Regions from separate parts of the Homo sapiens genome. Here region 1 is linked to region 2. Evidence: fine-mapped expression QTL. A gene starts in region 2. The other region holds a variant in brackets. All regions are shown on one strand. Distances are between the middles of the regions.

What was found. PIP is the estimated chance that this variant, and not a neighbour inherited with it, causes the effect.
Region 1: its variant is fine-mapped to the expression of CRYM in caudate (GTEx, PIP 0.98).

The regions. Positions count from the first base shown.
Region 1 is chr16:20,420,563-20,431,882 of GRCh38, forward strand. ACSM5 (acyl-CoA synthetase medium chain family member 5) reads left to right here. Exons shown (of 14, transcript NM_017888.3): 5 at 696-839; 6 at 3,354-3,507; 7 at 7,226-7,305; 8 at 9,116-9,239; 9 at 10,431-10,511; 10 at 10,658-10,759. Among named protein-coding and RNA genes, the nearest start is that of ACSM5, 17 kb to the left of the region's middle. The variant C/T (reference allele first, on the strand shown) is at 4,987.
Region 2 is chr16:21,271,570-21,282,889 of GRCh38, forward strand. CRYM (crystallin mu) reads right to left here and starts at 6,721. Exons shown (of 8, transcript NM_001376256.1): 1 at 6,513-6,721; 2 at 5,862-6,015; 3 at 3,963-4,025. The coding sequence starts at 6,682. RefSeq lists an enhancer at 6,513-6,722.

The DNA of each region.
Region 1 (11,320 bases), 850 kb before region 2:
GCACTCCAGCCTGGGCAACAAAAGCGAAACACCATCTCAAAAACAAAACAAAAAAAAATCGGCTCATATGATTTTGAGAGCTGTCAGGTGGGCCTAGATCAGTGGTTCTCAATTTTGGCTGTTACTAGAATTACTGAGAAGCATTTAAGAAAACATTAAAGATTCTGATTTTATTTTGTTCAGGGTGGATACAGACAAGTTTCTTCCAAAAATTTACCAGGGGACTTCACAGTGCAGCCAGGGATGAGAGCCCGTGGATTAGCTGATCATCCAGATCACAGAACTTTGGGAATTACCTAGATCTCAAAACCCCATATTGGGGGAAACCTTTAGAAAAGAGTTCTAAATTATTAGAAATTGGGATGGGGGTGGAAGCTGTGCCTAAATGTGCAGAATTATAGACATGGACATGTGTGTGTTCTACCAGAAAGTCCTCATACCTTGGTAAGAAAGCATGGACTCTTTTGCGTGAATTATTTATCTATTTTGAGCCTCAGTTTCCTGGTCTGCAAAAGGGTTATAATGATAGTACCTACCCCATGAGGTGGTTGCAGATTACCCAAGCCAGAGCTTTCAGCACAGCACCTCACATGTGGTATTTATGAAACGGTAGTCATATTGTTGTTACACATATTATTGGTGCTACTAACTGTTTTTACCGTGGTAGTGCCACCTAGTGTATTTACGTTTTACAGGGAGGCTTCTACAGAGCACAACTGCATGAGGACAAAGAGTCGAGACCCGCTGGCCATCTACTTTACCAGCGGAACCACCGGGGCCCCCAAGATGGTCGAGCACTCCCAGAGCAGCTACGGACTGGGTTTTGTGGCCAGCGGAAGGTACCAGAGCAGCTTGTCTAGAGGATCCAAGAACAGAAAGTGGGGAGTGGTCTGGAGGGGGTGGTGTGAGGGGAAAGGTGTCAGGAACGGAGGTCAGAGAGCCAACAGAATTACTGAGAAGCCAATAGGAGCAGCTTAGGAAGGATCTTGATGGTTCTGGATTTTACTCTGAGTGAGGTGAAAAGCCATGGGAGGTTTCTTTTTAAATCGTGGCTATATATATATATATATATATATATATATATATATATATATACACACACACATATATATACATACATACACATATAAACATATATATACATATATCATAAATGTACCCTTTTAACCATTTTAAGTGTACAGTTTAATGTCATTAAATACATTCACATTGTTGTGCAACCACAATCACCATCCATTTCCAGAATTTACTTTATCTTTCCAAATGAGAACTGTGCCCCCATTACCCAATAACACCCCATTACCCTCTCCCCTCACCCCTGGTAACCTCTATTTTACTTTTCATCTCTGTGAATTTGATACTCTAGGTATTTCGTGTAACTGGCATCATGCAGTCTGTCCTTTTGTTTTGCAATTTGGCTTCTTTCACTTAGCATAATGTCCTCAAGGTTCATCCGTGTCATAGCATGTGTCAAAATTTCCTTCCCTTTTAAGACTGAAAAATATTCCATTGTATGGATAGACCACATTTTATTTATTTTTATTTTTTATTTTATTTTTATTTTTTTGAGACAGAGTTTTGCTCTTTTGCCCAGGCTGGTGTGCAGTGGTGCGATCTCCACTCACTGCAACCTCTGCCTTCCAGTTTCAAGCAATTCTCCTGCCTCAGCCTCCCAGATAGCTGGGGTTACAGGTGCCCGCCACCACACCCAGCTAATTTTTGTATTTTTAGTAGAGACCGGGTTTCACCATGTTGGCCAGGCTGGTCTCGAACTCCTGACCTCATGATCCTCACGCCTTGGCCTCTCAAAGTGCTGGGATTACAGGCATGAGCCACTGCACCTGGCCTCGACCACATTTTAAATAATCCATTCACCTGTTGATAGACACTTGGGTAGCTTCCACATTTTGGCTATTGTCAATAATGTTGCTATAAACACTGGCATGTGAGTATCTGTTAGAGTCTCTGCTTTTACTTCTTTTGGATATACATGCAGAAATGAAATTGCTGGATCATATGGTAATTCTATGTTTAATTTTTTTTGAGAAGCATTGGGTATTTTGAGCAGAGGAGTGACATAATCTAATATGTTTTTTAAAGGCTCACTCAGGATGTTGGGTTGACAATGTAACTGTAGGGGAAACAGGTAAAGAAGATGACCAGTGCATTAAGAGGCAAGCATGGTAGCTTGCCCGGGGAGCAGTAGTGGGAGAAGAGATGAGATTCTGAATGTATTTTCAACCTAGACCCAATAAGGCTTGCTGACAGAATCAGTGTGGAATGAGAAGGAGGAGTCAAGGAGAGCTCTAAGAGGAATGGCCTGAACAACTGGAAGCACTAAATGATGGGGGAAGAACTGTGGGATGAGCTGTCTGGTGGCAAGAAAACAGTTTGTTTATGGAGTTGTCAATTTGAGAGTCTTCTTAGAAATCTCCATCTCCTTGTTAAAAGTGGAGATGTTGAGTGGGCATTTGGATACACATGTCTGAAGTTAATGAGAAAGATTCATGCTGAACTTATCAGTGTAAAGATGGTATTTCATACCATGAGATGGGATGAGATCAGCAAAGTGTAATATAAACTGAAAAGAGAATGGGTCTCAGGACTGAGTGCCCGAGGCATTTCTGCACTGAAGGGGAAGACCAGGAGGACTCAGCAGAGGAGACTGAGAAGGGAACAGCCAATGAAATGGGGAGAACCAGGAGTGCGCGTGTCCCAGGATTCAAGTGCATGACCGCTTTTTATGTCTTCCATGTTTGCAGACACTGTTTCCCATTCCTGGGATGCTCCTGCTTCTCTGCCTCACCTATATAATCCCTATTTATTCTTTATGTCTAACTCAAGTGTCACTTCCTCTACCAGAGCATTTCTCAGAAACCCATGTCCATCATTGCTCTGGGTTAGGTGCCTATTCTCTATAATTGCACAAGGCTTTGTGTTTAGCTCTATTAAAACATGCTCTCCAGGGGCTTCCTATAAGGCCCTCAAAGCAAGACTAATCGTTCATTTCTAGATCCCTAGTGCTAAGTCCAGACTAAATGCTAAATAAATGTTGGCTAAATAAAGTGACCTTAGCACAGAGTATTGAGGTTAATTTTTTCCCCTTATATATCACATCCACTGGACTGTGAACTTTCTGGAAACTCTTTTTGCTTCTGTATTCTTAGCCTAGGGCATAGGTACATGGAAGATGCTGGTTGAGACAATAGTTGACTTGATGGTCTTGTTCAGGTTTCACAAGTATAAGTGAGTACCCACTGAGCAGGGCTCCAAATGTGGTGATATAGATAATACAATCCTTTTTAAAGGTAGAGTCATTGCCAAGGTTACTGACGTTCTCTAATTTTTGGCAGACGGTGGGTGGCCTTGACCGAATCTGACATCTTCTGGAACACGACTGACACTGGCTGGGTGAAGGCAGCCTGGACTCTCTTCTCTGCCTGGCCTAATGGATCTTGCATTTTTGTGCATGAGCTGCCCCGAGTTGATGCCAAAGTTATCCTGAATGTAAGAGGAAAAACCAACAATACCCCATATGTGTTGGGTACAAATGAGATGAGTGGGATATAGATTTCAGACTGCAGGAGAAAACACATAAATCAGTGAATTTAAGGCTTCTTTGGTGTGGCTCCCTGGCCTTCCATAATCTGGTTCCTGACCACCTGGTTCCCTTCAATCATTGCCTATGCTCTAGCTACATTCCTAGATGTAAGACCATTTTGTTGCTATTTCTTTTGCATGGGGTGCCCTTGTTTCCACCACTTTCTTCCCTATGCTCCTGCCAAAACCCTAGGTATTTGTCAAACCCTTAGGCAAAATCAGTCTATGCCTCAACTCCAAATGCTACTGTCCATGGTTCTTAACATGAGTAGTTGGCCCAACTAGAGAGTCCTGGTGACTCCTGCTCAGCCTCTCAGGGTCTTCTCATGGGGAGGGAGGAGATTGGTGGCCCCAGTCAAGACACAGGTCACCTTTCTTCCACCCCCCACATCCTGTCATTCCTTAAAATGTCAGAGGACACTTCTGCTCATATTATTTGTACTGAGATAAGCTGTATCACATGGTAGCTAACTGCATAGGCTGTGCCATCAGTCAAAGAGTCAGACCTGGACTCTGATCCTACACCTTTGATTCGCTAGCTGTGTGGCCTTGGGGAAGCTGCTTAATCTCCTGAGCTGCAGTTTCAGCCTCATCTGTAAGAAAGGGATACATTTCTCTATAGATTTGCTGCGAGAATGAAATGATACAAGGCAAAGGGGCCAGCACATCATAGGTTCTTTTTTGAAATAATTTTTAATTTTTGTGGATACATAGTAGGTGTATATATTTATGGGGTACATGAGATGTTTTGATGTAGGCATGCAATGCGTGAAAATCACATCATAGAGAATGGGGTATCCATACCCTCAAAGCATTTATCTTTTGTGTTACAATCTAATTATACTCTTTCAGTTATTTTAAAATGTACAATTAAGTTTTTATTGACTATAGTCACCCTGATGTGCTTTAAAATAACAGGTCTTATTCATTCATTCTATTATTTTGGTACCAACTAACCATCCCCACCTTTCTCCCAGCCCCCGACTACCCTTCCCAGCCTCTGGTAATCATCCTTCTAATCTCTATTTCCATGAGTTCAATTGTTTTGACTTTTAAATCTCACAAATAAGTGAGAATATGTGAAGTTAGTCTTTATGTGCCTGGCTTATTTCACTTAACATAATGATCTCCAGTTCCATCCATGTTGCAGCAAATGACAGGACCTCATTCTTTTTTATGGATCCATTGTGTATATGTACATCTTCTTTTTCCATTCATCTGTTGATGGACACTTAGGTTGCTTCAAAACATAGTAGATTCTTTTTTTAAAAAAAAATTATTTTCATAGGTTATTGGGGAACAGGTGGTGTTTGATTACATGAGTAAGTTCTTTAGTGGTGATTGTAAGATTTTGGTGCACCCATCACCTGAGCAGTATACACTGCA[C/T]CCAATTTGTAGTCTTTTATCCCTCACCCCCTTCCCACCATTTTCCCCAAGTCCCCAAAGTCCATTGTGCCATTCTTACACCTTTGCATCCTCATAGCTTAGCTCCCACTTATGAGGGAGAACATAAAATATTTGGTTTTCCATTTCTGAGTTACTTTACTTAGAATAATAGTCTACAATCTCATCCAGGTCCCTGCGAATGCCATTAATTCATTCCTTTTTATGGCTGAGTTGTATTCCATTATATATATTTATATACCACACTTTCTTTGCCCACCTGTTGATTTATGGGCATTTGGGTTTGTTCCACATTTTTGCAATTGCAAACTGTGCTGCTATAAACATGTATGTGCAAGTATCTTTTTCATATGACTTCTTTTCTTCTGGATAGATGCCCAGAAGTGGGATTGCTGGATCAAATGGTAGTTCTACTTTTAGTTCTTTAAGGAATCTCCACACTGTTTTCCACAGTGGTTGTACTAGTTTACATTCCTACCAGCAATGTAGAAGTGTTCCTTGTTCACTGCATCCATGCCAACATCTATTATTTTTTGATATTTTGATTATGGCCATTCTTGCAGGAGTAAGCTGGTATCACATGGTGGACCAAATATAGTAGATTCTTAACCCATATTGATTGTTATCATCATGATCAAACTCATCACCATCATTATCCATGTAGTGCTTGATCAGCCAATGTATGGACCTTCTCCTTGCACTGTCCCCAGCTCTGATATAGTGTTTTCATTATCTATTGCTATGTAATAAATTATACCGAAACTTAGCACTTTAAAACACAAGCATTTATCTCACAGTTTCTGATGGTCAGGAAGCTGGAGGTAGCTTAATGAGGGGTTTTTGGAGCAGGGTCTCTCATGAGGTTGCAATCAAGAGGTCAGCAAGGTATGCTCATGTTCATAGCAGCATTAACAATAACTAAAAGGTGAAAGCAACACAAGTGTCCATCCACAGATGAATGAATAAACAAAATGTGGTGTATATGTACAATGGAATATTACCCAGCCTTAAAAAGGAAGGACATCTTGTTGTATGATATAACGTGGATAACCCTTGAGGACATTATGCTAAGTGAAACATGCCAGTCATACAAGGACAAATACTGTATGATTCCACTTACATGAGATTCCAAGAGTAGTCAAATTCATAGAGACAGAAAGTACAATGGTGTTTACCAGGAGTTAGGGGAGAGATTAATGGGAAATTATTGTGTAATGGGTACAGAGTTTAAGTTTGAGAAGATAAAAATAGTTCTGGAGGTGGATGGTAGCGATGGTTGCACAACACTCTGGAAATGTTTAATCCCACTGGACTATACACTTAAAAACCGTTCCAATGGGCAAATCCTATGTTGTGTGTATTTTGCCACAATAATTTTAAAGAAGATATTTGCTAGGACTGCAATCATCTTAAGGATTGACTGAAGCTGGAAAATTGCTTAAAAGTTCACTGGTGGCCGGGCACAGTGGTTCATACCTGTAATCCCAGCACTTTGGGAGGCCAAGGCGGGTGAATCATGAGGTCAGGAGTTAAAGACCAGCCTGGCCAGGATGGTGAAACCCCGTTTCTACTAAAAATACAAAAATTAGCCGGGCCTGGTGGTGGGCACCTGTAATCCCAGCTACTCAGGGGTCTGAGGCAGAGAATTGCTTGAACCCGGGAGGCAGAGGTTGCAGTGAGCTGAGATCTTGCCACTGCACTCCAGCCTGGGTGACAGAGTGAGACTCCATCTCAAAAAACCAAACAAAAAACAAAACAAAAACCTCACTGGTGGTTTTTAGTAGACTTCAATTTCTCACTGGGTGTTTGCTAGTCTCCAGTTTCTCACTGTGTGCACCTGTCCGTAGGATGGCTTGAGCATACTCAAAACATGGTGGCTTGCTTCCCCCAGAACAAGGGATCCAAGAAAGGCAGAGAGAAAGAATATCCAAGACAGAAGCCATAGTCTTTGTATAACCGAATCTTGAAAGTGGTATTCATCACCTTGGCAGTATGCCATTGCTGTCACAGACCCACTTTGGTATGAGGTGAGAGGGGATCCTCCAAAGGTGCACATGCCAGGAAGTAGGAGTCACTGGACACCATCTTGGCTGCTGGATTCCACACATAGTTTTCAGCTTCTCTGCTTTGGTACTGAGACTATAAAGATGCATTTGGCTCCATCTTCATGGTCCCACCCCAATGATTCTAAGGACATCTTTCACCCTTTGTTTTTGTTTAGACTCTCTCCAAATTCCCGATAACCACCCTCTGCTGTGTCCCAACCATCTTTCGGCTGCTTGTGCAGGAGGATCTGACCAGGTACAGCCCGTCTATTTCGTGCTTTGAGGGCCTAAGTATGTGAATATATAGCATGGGTATCCACACACACAACTACCCTCTCATTCCAACTCTCTTTCTTTCTCTGTCTCTCCCTCTATATATTTTTCTGCCTCTCTCTTTGTCTCTCTCTCACACACACATTTATACACGTACACATTGACAAGTCAACATACCTGTAAATCTCACAGATGCCCCTCAAGAACAAGCTTCTGGCCCCCCAAAATTTGCATCCAGATGGAACTAAATAGATTTAAGGCAGACTGAAATTTTAGCACCTGAGATAGGCTTCTCCTCACACCATACACCCATGGGCTATTCTGTCAGCAGTGTGTCTGCTACTTCTGTGAGGCGAGAGAAATGATTGGAAAATTGTTAGCCACCTGTGGAGTGGGGTCTGTGGCCAGGGCCCTCAGGTGTGGTGAAACTAACAAGCCCGCACCGCAGTAGATGCCCCAACTCTCAGCCTCAGACTAACCCCAGCCAACTGTTCTCTGAGCACATGCCATTGGGCACCCAAGAGAAAGGGACAAGGCACTGATGATGGCTCCATCCTGGGTGAAGCCAAAGCAACATCTTCTAGCAGAACAGGGCTGGTTGCTGGGGTATATGGAGAGAGGCCCACTGTCCTTCAGTATCCACCAACCCTGACCTGTTCTCCCTCTTTTGTCCTCCCGTAAGTCATGAGGAGTCGTCCTCTCATCTTTCCTAATCACATGAATCTACCCACCAAGTGTCCAAAAAAGGGAGTTCTTACATGCTTCTAAAAGTGAATTCTTCTCCAATGTAAGAAAATCATCCCATTCATTGATCTGATGTGTGCATCTCCACATGATGATTTTGGCTGAAAGCAAGCTCCAAGTACCTCGTTAAGAACAATGTCGTTGAATGCTCTTTGGTAATAATAAGTAACTTAATCAAGCCAATTTGATCTCCCCTCTCCTCCAAGATTAAAAATGTACTTGCAGTCACTGTTCTTTTTTATAATTTGGATGATTTGTTGAACAGAGAGGGCATTTTGCAACATAATTAATATCTGTAGGAATTTTTGGGATTCTTAGGGGTCTAATTTTTATCTTTTCCATTTTCTTTTCTTTCCTTTCTTTTCCTTTTTCTTTTATTTTTATTTATTTATTTATTTTAGAGACAGAGTCTTGCTCTGTTGCCCAGGCTGGAGTGCAGTGGCATGATCTCAGCTCACTGCAACATCTGCCTCCCAGGTTCCAGCTTTCCTCCCACTTCAACATTCCAAGTAGCTGGGACTACAGGCATGTGCCACCATACCCAGCTAATTTTTAGTATTTTTCGGTAGAGACGGGGTTTTACCACGTTGACCAGGCTGGTCTTCAACTCCTGAGATCAAGCAATCTGCCCACCTAGGCCTCCCAAAGTGCTGGGACTACAGGTGTGAGCCATGGTGCCTGGCCTATCTTTTCAATTTCTAATTCATCTATCCTTTTCAATCAGATTACTGTCCTAACCAATTTATTATCAGTTTTTTTCCAACTAAATTATTTTGGCCAAGTTACCTGGAACTCACCATATTATGCCAAAACCTATTATATGAGCTTCTGATTTTATCTCAAACTCAGATAGGATGGATCTTTTAAAAATTATCTGTCCATGAGGAGCATGGTTGCAAAGCCAGTGGGTGGACTCACTTAGAGAAGATTAAAAAGCAGGGGCATCTACCCTCTAGTGCCTGTGGTGTTTGCATCTGGGCAGTGGCACCAGAGGGCGGGGTGATATGAAGATCCTGACATAGGTGGCCTTGTTTTCCTGTCTGAGAAAGGTACCAGTTTCAGAGCCTGAGGCACTGTCTGACCGGAGGAGAGGCCCTCAACCCTGACGTGAGGGAGAAGTGGAAACACCAGACTGGTGTGGAGCTGTACGAAGGCTATGGCCAGTCTGAAACGGTGAGTGCTGGAGGGGCCAGGTCCCTACCCCCCAGGTCCCCTCGAGAGCTTCCTGCCTCTCCGGCTGTCACCTCCCTGAAGCTTCTCAGGGACCACCCTTCCCCCAGGGGAGAAGCTGATAACAAAATTCCATCAGCTTTCCTTCCCTTTTGATTTCCATATGTTCTCACTTATAAGTGGGAGCTAAGCTATGAGGATGCAAAGACATACAGAGTGGTATAAAAGACTTTGGAGACTCAGAAGGAAGAAGGTGAGAGGAGGGGCGTGAAGGTAAAAAAACTACGTATTGGGTATAATGTACACTACTCAGCTTACAGATGCACTAAAATCTCAGGATTCACCACTATAGAATTCATCCATGTTACAAAAAAACGCTCGAACCCAAAAAGCTATTGAAATACACACACACACACACACACACACACACACACACACTACTTATAAATTAAAAAAAGGTAATTTAAAGTACTTTTACAATTATACCATGACCAGCAAACCAGCCCTCACTGCTGAAGGCATTGTTTGTCTCCACCAAGACAGTCTACATCTGCCACTGTTCAGAGTCCAAGATTCTAAGCAGCGTCCTCTATAGTCATCTAGGAAGAGATCTGGGGATCAACTGAGTCTTTTGGCTTAGAGATGGGTTAAGTTCTTTATGTTTGAGTGCCCACTGGAGTGCCCCATAATTGTTTGTTAACTATGGAAAGAAAAGAAGAAAGACAGGCAAGAAAGAGGGAAGAAAATAGGAAGAAAATGAAGAAGGAAGGGAGGGAGGAAATAAAGGAAAGAGAAAGGAAAAGAAGGAGGAAAGGAAGGGAAAAAGATGAATGGAAGGAAGGAAATAGGGAACAAAGAAGAAGGGAGGAGAGAGGAAAATGGAGAATGAAATAACGGGGAAAAGAATGAAAAAAAGGAGGAAAGAAAATGAAGGAGGGAAGGAAGAAAACAGGAAAGGGGAAAGAAAGGAAAGAAAGAGGAAAGGAAGGAGTGAGCAAGGAAGAAAAAAGAAAAGAAAGAAGGGAGGAAGAATGGAGAGAAATGGAGAGAGGAGAAGGGAAAGAAAGAAGAAAGTGAGGGAGGAGAAAAAAGAGGATGAGAGAAAGAGTTATCAGGCAGGGTGAGAGAAAGGCATGGCCCAGGAAAGAAGCTAAGTGGAAAGGCTCTTCTTTATCTGTACTGCGTTCTCCCCAGGTTGTCATCTGTGCCAATCCAAAAGGCATGAAAATCAAGTCTGGATCCATGGGGAAGGCGTCCCCACCCTACGATGTGCAGGTAGCAGCCTCCCCCAACTTCTGGCAAGGCCTGGCATGGAGAGGAGAAAGACACACAGGCCTGGTTGGCACGGGCTGCTGGGCTGCTGGGAGAGGCCCAGGGTGTAGACACTCACGTATGCACCTCTGTGATGATTTCCTTACCAGATTGTGGATGATGAGGGCAACGTCCTGCCTCCTGGAGAAGAGGGGAATGTTGCCGTCCGTATCAGACCCACTCGGCCCTTCTGTTTCTTCAATTGCTATTTGGTAAGAGACGGGGAACAGCCGTTCTCATGACAGTGACTGTGTGCTAAGCATTGTGCACCACACTTTGTAAATATCTATTTGTTTAATCCTTACAATGACTGCATGAGGTAGGTTGCTACTATTATTAATAAAGTTCTGTTATTGATAAGGAAGACTATTATTGATAAGGAAGCTACTACAAAGGGGAAGTGACTTATCCAGCATCATGCAAATAGTACAGGCAGGACATGGGATTTAAATGTGGGTGTGTCTGAAAGCGTAAACATGACATGAGGGCAGCACTGTTGTTTTAATGAGGTGAAAATCGAGGTACAGTAAAGGAAAGGAGCTTCTGAAGGTCAAACTGCAGCCGGGTGCAGTGGCTCACATCTGTAATCTCAGCACTTTCAGAGGCCGAGGCAGGTGGATCACCTGAGGTCAGGAGTTCAACACCAGCCTGGTCAGCATAGTGAAACCCCGTTTCTACCAAAAATACAAAAATCAGCCAGGCATGGTGGCGCACGCCTCTATTCCCAGCTACTTGGGAGGCTGAGACAGGAGAATTGCTTGAACCAGGGAGGT
Region 2 (11,320 bases):
TAGTTTAACGTCTCTGATTTGAAAAGGTTTCAAAATGATAATATCCACAAGACTAGAAATCTTATGTTGCTGTCTGATAAGGATAATTAGATTTTTTTCCTTAATTGTTACCATTTTCTTCTGTTCTCAGTTAATATGAATCTATTCTTGAAAGTACAGGTGAGCTTCAGAAATTGTTACAGTATCCCATAAAAATAACCTTCAACTTCCTAAACTAAATGTGTAATTCTAATTGGTTGTCTTACTTGATAATTTGTTGCCCTGGTAATAGTGTGATAATTGATATTTTTAAAATTTTTTTTTTTTTCCGAGACAGTCTCGCTTTGTCGCCCAGGCTGGAATGCAGCGGTGTGATCTCAGCTCACTGCAACCTCTGCTTCCTGGGTTCAAGCGATTCTCATGCCTCAGCCTCCCGAGTAGCTGGGATTACAGGTATGTGCCACCATACTTGGCTAATTTTTTTTTTTTTTTTTGGTAAAGATGGGGTTTCGCCATGTTGGCCAGGCTGGTCTCGAACTCCTGACCTCAAGTGATCCACCTGCCTCGGCCTCCAAAAGTGCTGGGATTACAGGTGTAAGCCACTGCACCCAGCCGATTTTTAATCATATGTTTATAAGATTTATTAAACAGCATTAGTGGCACTTCAATCTTTTCTCCTAAGCATGCAGGTTATTAAGTACACGTATATGAATCTGCTGGGTTTCTCATTTAAAGAGTCTGAAAGTCTGTTTCATTTGCATTTGCCAAGGCCTTGCATGGTCTGGCCCTCCTATCTCTAAAGCTGTCTCTCATACCACCATGCCATGTTCCCCTGCACTTCCTGTCTTCCAGCCATACTGGCTTCCTTGCAGCTTCCCAAGCTCATGTACTTCCTTCAACCACAGGGCCTTTGCATGAATTAATTCCTTGCCATACGATGCTAGGCTGCTTTGTCCCCTCTCCCCCTCACAAGTAACTGATTATCCTTCAATCTCAGCTCAAATATCCCCTACAGAGACACAGCCACAGGCTAGATCAAGACATACTGCTTTACACTCTTACAGCACTTGTCAGCGTTGTAGTTTCATATTTATTGGTGTGAATTTTTTTTTTTTTTTTGGAGACTGAGTCTCACTCGTTGTCCAGGCTGGAGTGCAGTGGTGTGATCTTGGCTCACTGTAACCTCCGCCTCCAGGATTCAAGCAATTCCCTTGCCTCAGCCTCCCAAGTAGCTGGGATTACAGGCACCTGCCACCATGCCCAGCTAATTTTTTTTTTTTTTTTTTTTTTTTTTTTTTTAGTACAGATGGGGTTTTTCCATGTTGGTCAGGCTGGTCTTGAACTCCTGACCTCAGGTAATCTGCCTGCCTCAGCCTCCCAAAGTGCTGGGATTGCAGGCGTGAGCCACTGCGCCCAGCCTATTGATGTGATCTTTGGACTATATCTTGCCTCCCCCACTGGACCCTGTACTACATGAGGGCAAGTACTGTATCTGGTTTTGCTTACCCCATGCTGAGCGCAGAACCTTGCATTTGGTGGACACTCAAATATTTGTTGAATAAATGTATGTTAGTGCTAAACCCTAATATATACTATCACCTTGAGAAAACATATCAGAGGCTTCAATGAAGCTTATGTGAGACCCAAGCACAAAAAATGTATTATGTTCATCAGACCCTAGAGCTCCGTATACTTATTCTCCCCAACAAGAGCCCTAAATAGAAGAGAAATGATGGACAAGAAAATATTCTACTCTCAAGGCAACAAGTAAAATAGACCCTTTGTTCCTTATTGAAACAGTTCATCTGAGCCCCTGGAAATAAAGCTGTGAAGTTTCAGCCTAAACTTTGAAGTGTCTAAACTTTGAAGTGTCAACCCAAGGCTTCTTGATTCTTCTGGGAGCACAGATTTTTATTAATGCAACAAAGCAGTGTTATTGCAGGCTGGGTCTACAAAAGTGTGGTTTCCAGACCTGGTTGATCCTCACTCTGTGATTTTGATTCAGTAGGCATGGGAATTTGAGTTTTTAAAAACTTCCCTAGCTAATGCTGCTGCATAGCTTGCTTCTGTTGGAAACTTCTTATCTGGGACAAGACCATGTGGCCTCAAAAGGACCCGCAGGAACCTGGTTGTATGACTTCAGGAAACCCAAGTTTCTATTCTTTTATGCGTAAAATGAGGCCATTAATACTTTCTCTGCCTTCCTCACAGAAACTCGTAGTCCAGACAAGGGGCTGGAAATGAGTTTGAAAAAGACTAAAGCTCTTTGCAAATGACAGTAATACAAGATTCATTCTGTTCCCAAATTACCAGCAAACATAGCAAGGAGTCCTTGATTACTTCAGTTGAGTCAGGTCTGGATATAACTAAAAACCAGTTCATTGAGGTGGGTGCTGTTGGTCTACTCCCTTCGCATACAATTACCAGATTAATCCTCCCATTCTTCCCTCCCCAGCAGGTATCTAGAAAACCTCGACATGCAACCTGAACACCTGGTCTTTGCTGCTGCAACTTTCCCTGGGTTACCACGTTTCCTTTATAATAACTTAGGAAAACCAGTGTCCCAAGACCTTGTACTTCCACATTTAATGTGAAAGACTCCAGACTCCAATCGTTCCCACAGACACCCTGTTTCCTAAGCCTCATCCTCTTAACTCTAACTTTTAAAAATGCTGTTTTTCTTATAGGATGCCTTGACATTGCTTGGGAACATCATCACCCCCATTGCTTACTGTTCCCTCTGCCTGGAGTGCCCCTCCGTGTTTTTGCATGGTTCGCTAACTCACTGCTTTCAGCTTTGACTCAAATGTCACCTTCTCAGGGAGGCCTTTCTTGGATAATGTAAAATGTGACAGCTTCTCCAATACTCTCACTTCTGCTTTATCTTCACCTAACATGTTATGTGGCTTTTTGGATTATTGTTGGTTTTATTTTTTAGCAAATTCTAAGCACGCTATTAATCATTTATTAATATGTACTAATTATTTAATTACATATTATTTATTACTATTTAACACATTATTAAACTCAACAGATGTTTTTGTTTGTTTTGTTTTGTTTCCTTTTTGTTTTGTTTTTTAAGACACTCACTCTTTTGCCCAGGCTAGAGTGCAGTGGCTCGATCTGGGCTCATTGCAACCTCTGCCTCCTGAGTTCAAACGTTTCTCCTGCCTCACTCTCCCGGGTAGCTGAGATTATAGGCGCCCACCACCACGACCAGCTAATTTTTGTGTTTTTACAAGAGACGAGGTTTCACCATGTTGACCAGGCTGGTCTCCAACTCCTGAGCTCAAGTGATACGCCTGCCTCAGCCTCCCAAAATGTTGGGATTACAGGCGTGAGCCACTGTACCCAGCCTGTGTTTTCCTTTTTATTGGTATTGTCTACCTCCCCTGTGTGTGCCCCTCTGTTTTTCTCACTGCCATTTCCCTAACATTTAGAACAGTGCCTGACACATGATAGAAGCCCAGTCAATACTTGTCGAATGAATACAGGGATCTGGCTTGGATATGTTCAGTTCACTCAGCCTCTTGTGTAGTACTAGCTTTGGTCTATGGGACAATTATACTGTCTTACCAGGGGCAATGTGGTACAGGGACAAGAAGCCAGTCCTGGAAGCCAGAGAGGTCAAGTATTAAATTCTTACTCTAGCACTTATTAGCTGTGTGATCCTGGGCAATTCACAGAAGCTCTCTGAGCCATATTCCTTGACCTGGAAGGTGGAGAGAATTTCTCATTTCGATTCTTCAAGACTGATGGGAAGATTGAGAATTATGCACATAAGGTACTTGAAATCTGGTCATGCACACTAATTGGTAGCTAATAATTTCGTGAATTACTGATATATCTGACATCTGGAGTTCCAGCTATGTCCAACAGGAAACCAAAATAAGTTCCCCACTTCTCCTTTAGTCTCTCAAGATTGAGACACCAGACCCCACTTGACAGCTCACCTTAATGGTACAGCCAGCCATTCATCTTACCTTGGTGGCAATGGCAGAAACTGCAGCTGTTCTCTTTGCAGTTATGACATTTCCATCCATGACCTTGGAGGAAAAGAGAGACAGTGAGCAAGGGGAACCCCTGTCCACTGCATAAATTAGAAGAAACAGTTCTAAAATATTAGCTTAGGAAGTTTTATAGCATCCTACAAACAGCATGGGTTTGGCGTCAGACCTGGATCCGATTCCTCCACTTACGAGATATGCAACTTTGAACAAACACTTTAATCTTTAAGCACTGGTTTCCTCACCTGTAAAAAAGATAATGCCAGCCATTCAGAGGGTTATTGTGAGGATTAAATGCACTGGCATATCTGGAAACATCTAGCACATGGTGAGCCCTCAAGAACTGCCCATTTTCTTTTCTTGCCCTAGGATTCTCAAAACACCAAATTAAGAAGGAACTAGAGAGAGAAGGTTGCCAATTGACATCTGGACAACGGCCATGAAACTCTTAGTGGCTCTCCGTTCCTGCTGCACATGTGGAAAGCTTCGTGAAGATGCTCAGATACCACCCTTAGATTAACCCAGTCTGTATCTCTTCCAGGAGTGAGACCCAGACAGCCCAGGTGATTCCGATACACAGCGAAGGTTGAAAATTATGCCTCGCTAGTAAAAACCATCCTCTGCACTCCTCTCCCTGTTATTCATCTCAGCTGATCATCAAAAAATAGGCATCATCAACCTCATTTTACAGATGAGGAAGTGAATCACGAAGTCACTGAGCAGATTCAGCTGTCATCTAGTTTCAAAGCCTTGGGTTCTACCCCCCTAGGGAACCGCTGTTGGCAGGTAGTATGAATGCCATCTCGGTTGGATGAGTGTAAGTTGGGGAAAGCTAGATATTCTCAAAGGAGTGTTAAACGGCCAGATTATTTGGCGATCCAGAAATTCAGGGGAAAAGGAGGGACATTGTAAGACCCAGCTTGGAGCGCACAGACCTTAAGAGTTAACTGTCACACCTGGGAGTGATTCTTGAGTCTTTCACTAACCAGATGTGTGACCTCAAGCAAAGTGACTCTACTAACCTGAGCCTCAAGGACCTCAACAGAAATTGGGGGGAAGGGGAGTTAATAAAAACACCCATAGAGGAATTTTGCAGAATTGAATGTGATCAGCGTCTCCTTCTTGGCACATAAGTGCCCAATATGTAGCAGTTAAAATGGCGGTGGTCTTAGAAGAGTCTGGACCTATGGACCGTGGACTTAGACTGAGCAGCTCTGAAGTCCAACCATGCTAATTGTTGGTTACATAAACCTCGGTAAGTTGAACATAGTTGCTCTGACTCGGTTTCCTCATCTATAAAGTGGGAGTAATCATATTACCCATATCATAGAATAGTTTTAAGTATTAAGAGGATTAATAAATGTGAAATGTTTAGAAAAGTGCCTGATGCATTATAAAAAGTACTCCATAAACACAAGCTACTGCTACCTTTTGAAACTATGATTAGATATTAAAACAGGTCACACCGTATACCCCTCTGAAGACTCCCAGGGATTATAGAACACCCCTTCTTTTCCATGTCGACAAGGATTCAGTAAGTAAGTCTTCCCTTGGCTAATGGGTTCATTCAAGCTGCGTATTTGGGGCAACTGAGTATAGGACAAGGACATATGCAAGAATGACAACAAGATTATTATTTCCACACTGTCACATGCTTGAGGCAGCAGTGGGCGCTGGTGCCGTGTTATGCATCCTCAGGCAGTCCTAGAAATAGATACATGGACACAGATAACCTTCACTGTTGCTGGTATCCAGTCACTTGCAGAGGGGCACGCGTAGTCACAATCAAGACTCCCCCTGCTGCGGAGAACTTACTTTTGAGCTTCAATCTGGGCCCAGGGGCCCCATTCCACCCCGGGACAGGAAGTTGCTCACCGCCAGCAGGGTGCCATTGCTGGGCTCAAAGAGTAGCACAGTAGCCTGGTGGGAAGGGACGACCGAGGTGATGCCGCGGTCCTCGTAGAAGGTGACCAACTTGGTGGTCAGTGCATCCTCTGCAGCACTGTAGGCGGGCATGACCCCCAGGTAGCTACAAGGAGAGAGGGAGCAGCTTCAGCCCCTTCCCATCAATGCTGGGGTCTCTTAGAAAGTATCCATATACTTTCCTTTTTCTTTCCTTCCTCACCACCCCACTGGCCCTCTTCCAGCCCCCGCATCCCTCTGCCCTTCCCTTAGACACTATGCACAGTATGTTCAGAAGTCTGGCTCTGGATCAGAAAACCTTTCCAGCTCTGCCACTTAGTAGCTGTGTAAGCTTAGGTAAGTCACTTAACCTCTCTGAGTCTCAGTTTTCCACCAATCAAATGGTGGTATCAATACCTCCCTAGGTGGAGAGTGTGCTGAAATAAACAAGGTAACACCTGTAAAACGCCCACTTAGCACACCGGGTAGCGCCTATTAAAAGTGGCAGCTGTTAGCAACGGTTAGGCAAGCCGTCTCTTCCCTTCTCCCACCCCTCCTCTTCCTGCTCCTCCTTTCCCCGCTTTCCAGTTTCTCCTGCCCCTGACCCCGACCCTCCTCACTCACCCCCTGTGCTTGGTCACCGGCACCACGGTGCGCACGGGCTGCATGACCCCTCCTTCGGGACCGCTGGAGAAGTTGGCCAGGGCCGTCTCTAGAGGCGGGATGAGGAGGCTGGAGCTGCGGAGGTGTTCCTCCACCTCGGCCGCGCTCAGGAACGCTGGTACCCGGCTCATCTCGCCACCTGTGCCTTCTAACCTCAGTCTCCGCACCGCGATCCACGTACCCTCGGCTGTGCCCTTTATGAGCGCGCCCGCTGCTCTGTGGAGCCGCCTGCTGGTCACAGCCCAGCCTCCGGGGGCGGAGCAACCCCGCCCCGCCCCGCCAGCCCTCTCCTCCCCCTTCGCCCACCTCGACCCCTAAGGGTGGGCGAGATGGGTCCCTTCCAGCAACGGATTCCCCAAGATGGACATCGCGGTGGCGTGCTGGGAGTCAATATTGTTTGGTCCACTTTCTCAGTTCCTGTAATCAGCTGTAGCCACATTCCTTGACTTTTGCTTCCTACATAACCCCTCCCTATTAACTCGCTTTTTGCTGCTGTCTAGGTCACCGTGCCTGGGAAAGAATGGACAGGGAAAACGCTAACGGGGCTCCTTTATTTATTAAATTACTGCCTACTGCTAGGAGATAAAAGGAGACGGAGGCTTATTTAATTTTTTTTTCCTTTTAATTCTGTCCCCGTCTAGAGTCTCTTATCCTAGTCTTCCTCCCCCCTGTACCCCCAGATGTCTGGCCTTTGATTGCTAAGAACGCACAGTTTTCTCACAGGCTAACTAACCTAACAAACCTTCGCCTTTAAAGGGGGGAAGTTTGCAGGGCAAGGTGTAATCTTTTCCATCTCACAAAAAGCCAAATTGCAGGATCTTTTCTTCCAGGAGTTTTTACCTGAGATGGGGAAATAAAATCGGAAAGGAATGATGTAAAGCTTAAGGCAATAAATCCTAGTCATCAAATCAGTGATAGGAAAAGTAAGTTAATTCAAAGAAAAGAGAGATGATTTTGACCTGGAGTGGTTAGATAAGGGCTTCATGAAAGAGTGGGGAGAAACCAAGGTCTGAAATAATAATAGTGACGACAACAATGATAACATCAGGTTATTGATCTTTACTATGTACCAGATACTGCACCATGCACTTTATGTATATTATCTCATTTAATTATACAACAACCTCTAAGGTAGGGAGGTGTTGTTATTAGTTTTACTGTCCATTGGAGGCTCTGAGAAGGGAAGAAATTTAGTTCAAGGTCATCCACCAAGTCAGCAGAGGAGCTGGCTTTGCCCATGGTTGGACTTCAGAATTATATTCCTAATCATTAAGCTACTTTGGCAGAAAGAGAGGAAGAGGGCATTACAGGCCAAGTAAAGCCCTGAGGTGGAAGGCATGTTGAATAGCTCTGGGAACAGTGAGTTGCCAGATGTGTTAGGCTGGAATAAGGTGCTGAGGTCTAGGAGCATCAGAAGATAAAACTGAGAACGATTCTTGGAGTCAGGCAGCTGAGAATGGTGATTCCTAGGAAAGAAATTACATGCTCCAAGAGAGTAAGCATTTAGAAAGATGGGTCTTCTGCCAATGCAAAGGATGGAACAGATGAGCGAGAGCAGAGCCTGGGAGAAGGTCAAGAGGCAGGACTGCTGAAGTTGTGCTTTGTGGTATTTTGGTTGGAAGCTACATAGGGCATTTTGTAGGAAATGGTCACATCATGATAAAAGACAGTGGATGAGTAAGTGTCAAAATCAGTACCAATGAAATGAGAAATTGTACATAATGTGTTTAGCAACAGTGCTTGGCACAGAGTAGCCATGTAATAAGTGAACACTGAGAGAGAAAGAGAGAGAGAGAGAAGACACTGGTGGTTGGGAAAAGCTGATTTCAATGACACAATTTTGTTTCTTCGGTTCACCATCCCTAGAAATTTATGCCCAGAGCCGCTGGGCTTATAGAAATGTTTCTGGCCCATCACGTGTGCTGTTAGCATTAATATTACATCACATTTATTGGGTTTAGAAAGCACAGACATATAGCCCTGGCATGATAGTTCACGCCTGTAATCCTAGCACTTTGGGAGGCCCAAGTGGGTGGATTACCTGAGGTGAGGAGTTCGAGACCAGCCTGGCCAACATGGTAAAATCTTCTCTCTACTAAAAATACAAAAATTAGCTGGGTGTGGTGGCGGGTGCCTGTAATCCCAGCTACCCAGGAGGCTGAGGCAGGAGAATTGCTGGAACCCGGGAGATGGAGGCTGCAATGAGCCAAGATTGCACCACTGCACTCCAGCCTGTGTGACACAGTAAGACTTTTTTGGCCCTTTGTTTTTGTGAATGTGAACTAAAAATAAAATCCTATGCCCCCCACCTACTGAATGAACCCCCTCTGGGCCAAGCAGACCCCAGAAAAACCTTAAAGACTTAGTTTCCAGCCATGATGGGATGGCAAATCAGATATGCCTCATTACATCCTCTCCCTTTTAGAGTTTAGACACAACTGAGCAGCCTTAATGTTAATACAGAGATCACAAGACTGACAGAACAGACTCTTTGTGGCAATACGATAACAAATTATAAACAGGATCTAAGGCCATGCCAGGAAGGGTTAAGTCACGCACCCTTACACTTAAAGAAAAAAGCTATGTTCTAACTGCCACAGAGTTTTTGTTTTCTCCAGCAGCTAAACAAGCACTGGCTTGAAGATAAGCAATATTTTTGTTTTTGTTTTCCCCAGCCCTGCTCAGAGAAGATAGGGAACATGGCTTGGGCACAGTGGCTCACACCTGTAATCCCAGCACTTTGGGAGGCCAAGGCGGGCGGATCATGTGAGGTCAGGAGTTTGAGACCAGCCTGGCCAACGTGATGAAACCCCATCTCTACAAAAAGTACAAAAATTAGCCAGGTGTGGTAGCATGTGCCTGTAATCCCAGCTACTCAGGAGGCTGAGGCAGGAGAATTGCTTGAACCAGGGAGGTGGAGGTTGCAGTGAGCCGAGATCGTGCCACTGCACTCCAGCCTGGACAACAGAGTGATTCTCTCTCTCTCTCACTCTCTCTCTCTCTCTCTCTCTCTCTGTATATATATATATACACAAACATATATGTATATACATATATACGTATCTATGTATCTATATAGATATGTATATGTATCTATGTATCTATATAGATATGTATATATGTGCATATATATATATATAAATTTTTTTTTTGAAACAAAGTCCCTCTCTGTCACCCAGACTGGAGTGCAGTGGCATGATCTCAAGTGATTCTCCTGCCTCAGCCTCTCAGGTAGCTGGGATTACAGGTGCATGCCACCACCCCCGGCTAATTTTTGTACTTTCAGTAGAGATGGGGTTTTGTCATGTTGGCCAGGCTGGTCTCGGTCTCGAACTCCTGACCTGAGATGATCCACCCGCCTTGGCCTCCCAAAGTGCTGGGATTACAGGCATGAGCCACCGTGCCCGGCTGAAGATATGCAATATTAAAACAATTACAACTCATCCAAATCACAGATATTGACTAACCGACCCCTTGTTCCACCAGCCATAACTACAGCTTGATTGGACAAGAGACTGATTTCAGTAACTTTCTCCTGATAAGACTACCGACTATAGGATGGTTCTGGCTGACTTACAGAGGTTGCACACTTGCATGCCTTCATGTCCTGAAAAGACCTTTTGACGTATCAGGCTGAATTGTAATACATTTAAATGCTGCAACCACCCCAAAATGAACATGAGTTGTATGTAACATGCATGTTTGTTAAATACACATGCATCAGGACCACTTTCATGAATATTCATAGCTTCTTCTCTCACCTGTTGAATATGTATATTTAGCCAACCTGTTGAGCATAAAGCTCCTACCCCAACCCTCCTCCTTCAAAGTGCCTGTCTCTGATCTTGGCCAAGGCATGTGATATGGTTTGGCTCCATGTCCACACCCAAATCTCTTCTTATAGCTCCCATAATTCCCACATCTTGTGGGAGGGACCCAGTGGGAGATGACTGAATCATGGAGGCGGGTCTTTCCCCTGCGGTTCTGATGATAGTGAATGAGTCTCACGAGATCTGATGGTTTTAAAAATGGGAGTTGCCCTGCACAAGCTCTCTCTTTGCTATTGCCCTCCATGTAAGATGTGACTTGTTCCTCCTTGCCTTCCACTATGATTGTGAGGCCTCCCCAGCCATGTGGAACTGTAAATCCAATAAGCCTCTTTCTTCTGTAAATTGCCCAGTCTCAGGCATGTGTTTATAGACAGCATGAAAACGGAATAATACAGCGTGCTTCCCAGCATAGGATCCCACCTTGCAGGCTGTAACCTCGTATAAGAAAGTCTCTTCTTGTCTAAATTTATAAATTGTGTGGTTTTTTTTTTAAAGTTAACAAGGAGAAAAAAAGCAAAACCAAATACTCATCAACTAAAAGAGATATGAAATAAGAAAGCCAGATATTTATTTGCTTCCATAGTAAATTCAGGAATTTAGCCCCGATTAAATAGAAATCTTATTTCTGACTCCCACATTACTAGAAAGTTTATTAATCTTCTTTAAGTCATGATTATAATAGTAATTTCATTATTTTAACAATGACAAAATAAGAAACCTCAATAATAGGAATTCACTCCAGTGAATCCTGTAGAAACAGGACAACTCTGCAAATCATCTCAAATCATCTTCCTGATAAAGCTTTGGTTCACATCACCCAGGTCCTCAGTAAAGTAGCACTGAGAAAACTAGTCTTGGTTGCATCACTTCTTTTGAGACCAGAGGCACAGAGAACTAATTGTCCCAAGCCTCCAATAATAAGTATTATTAATAAGTAGC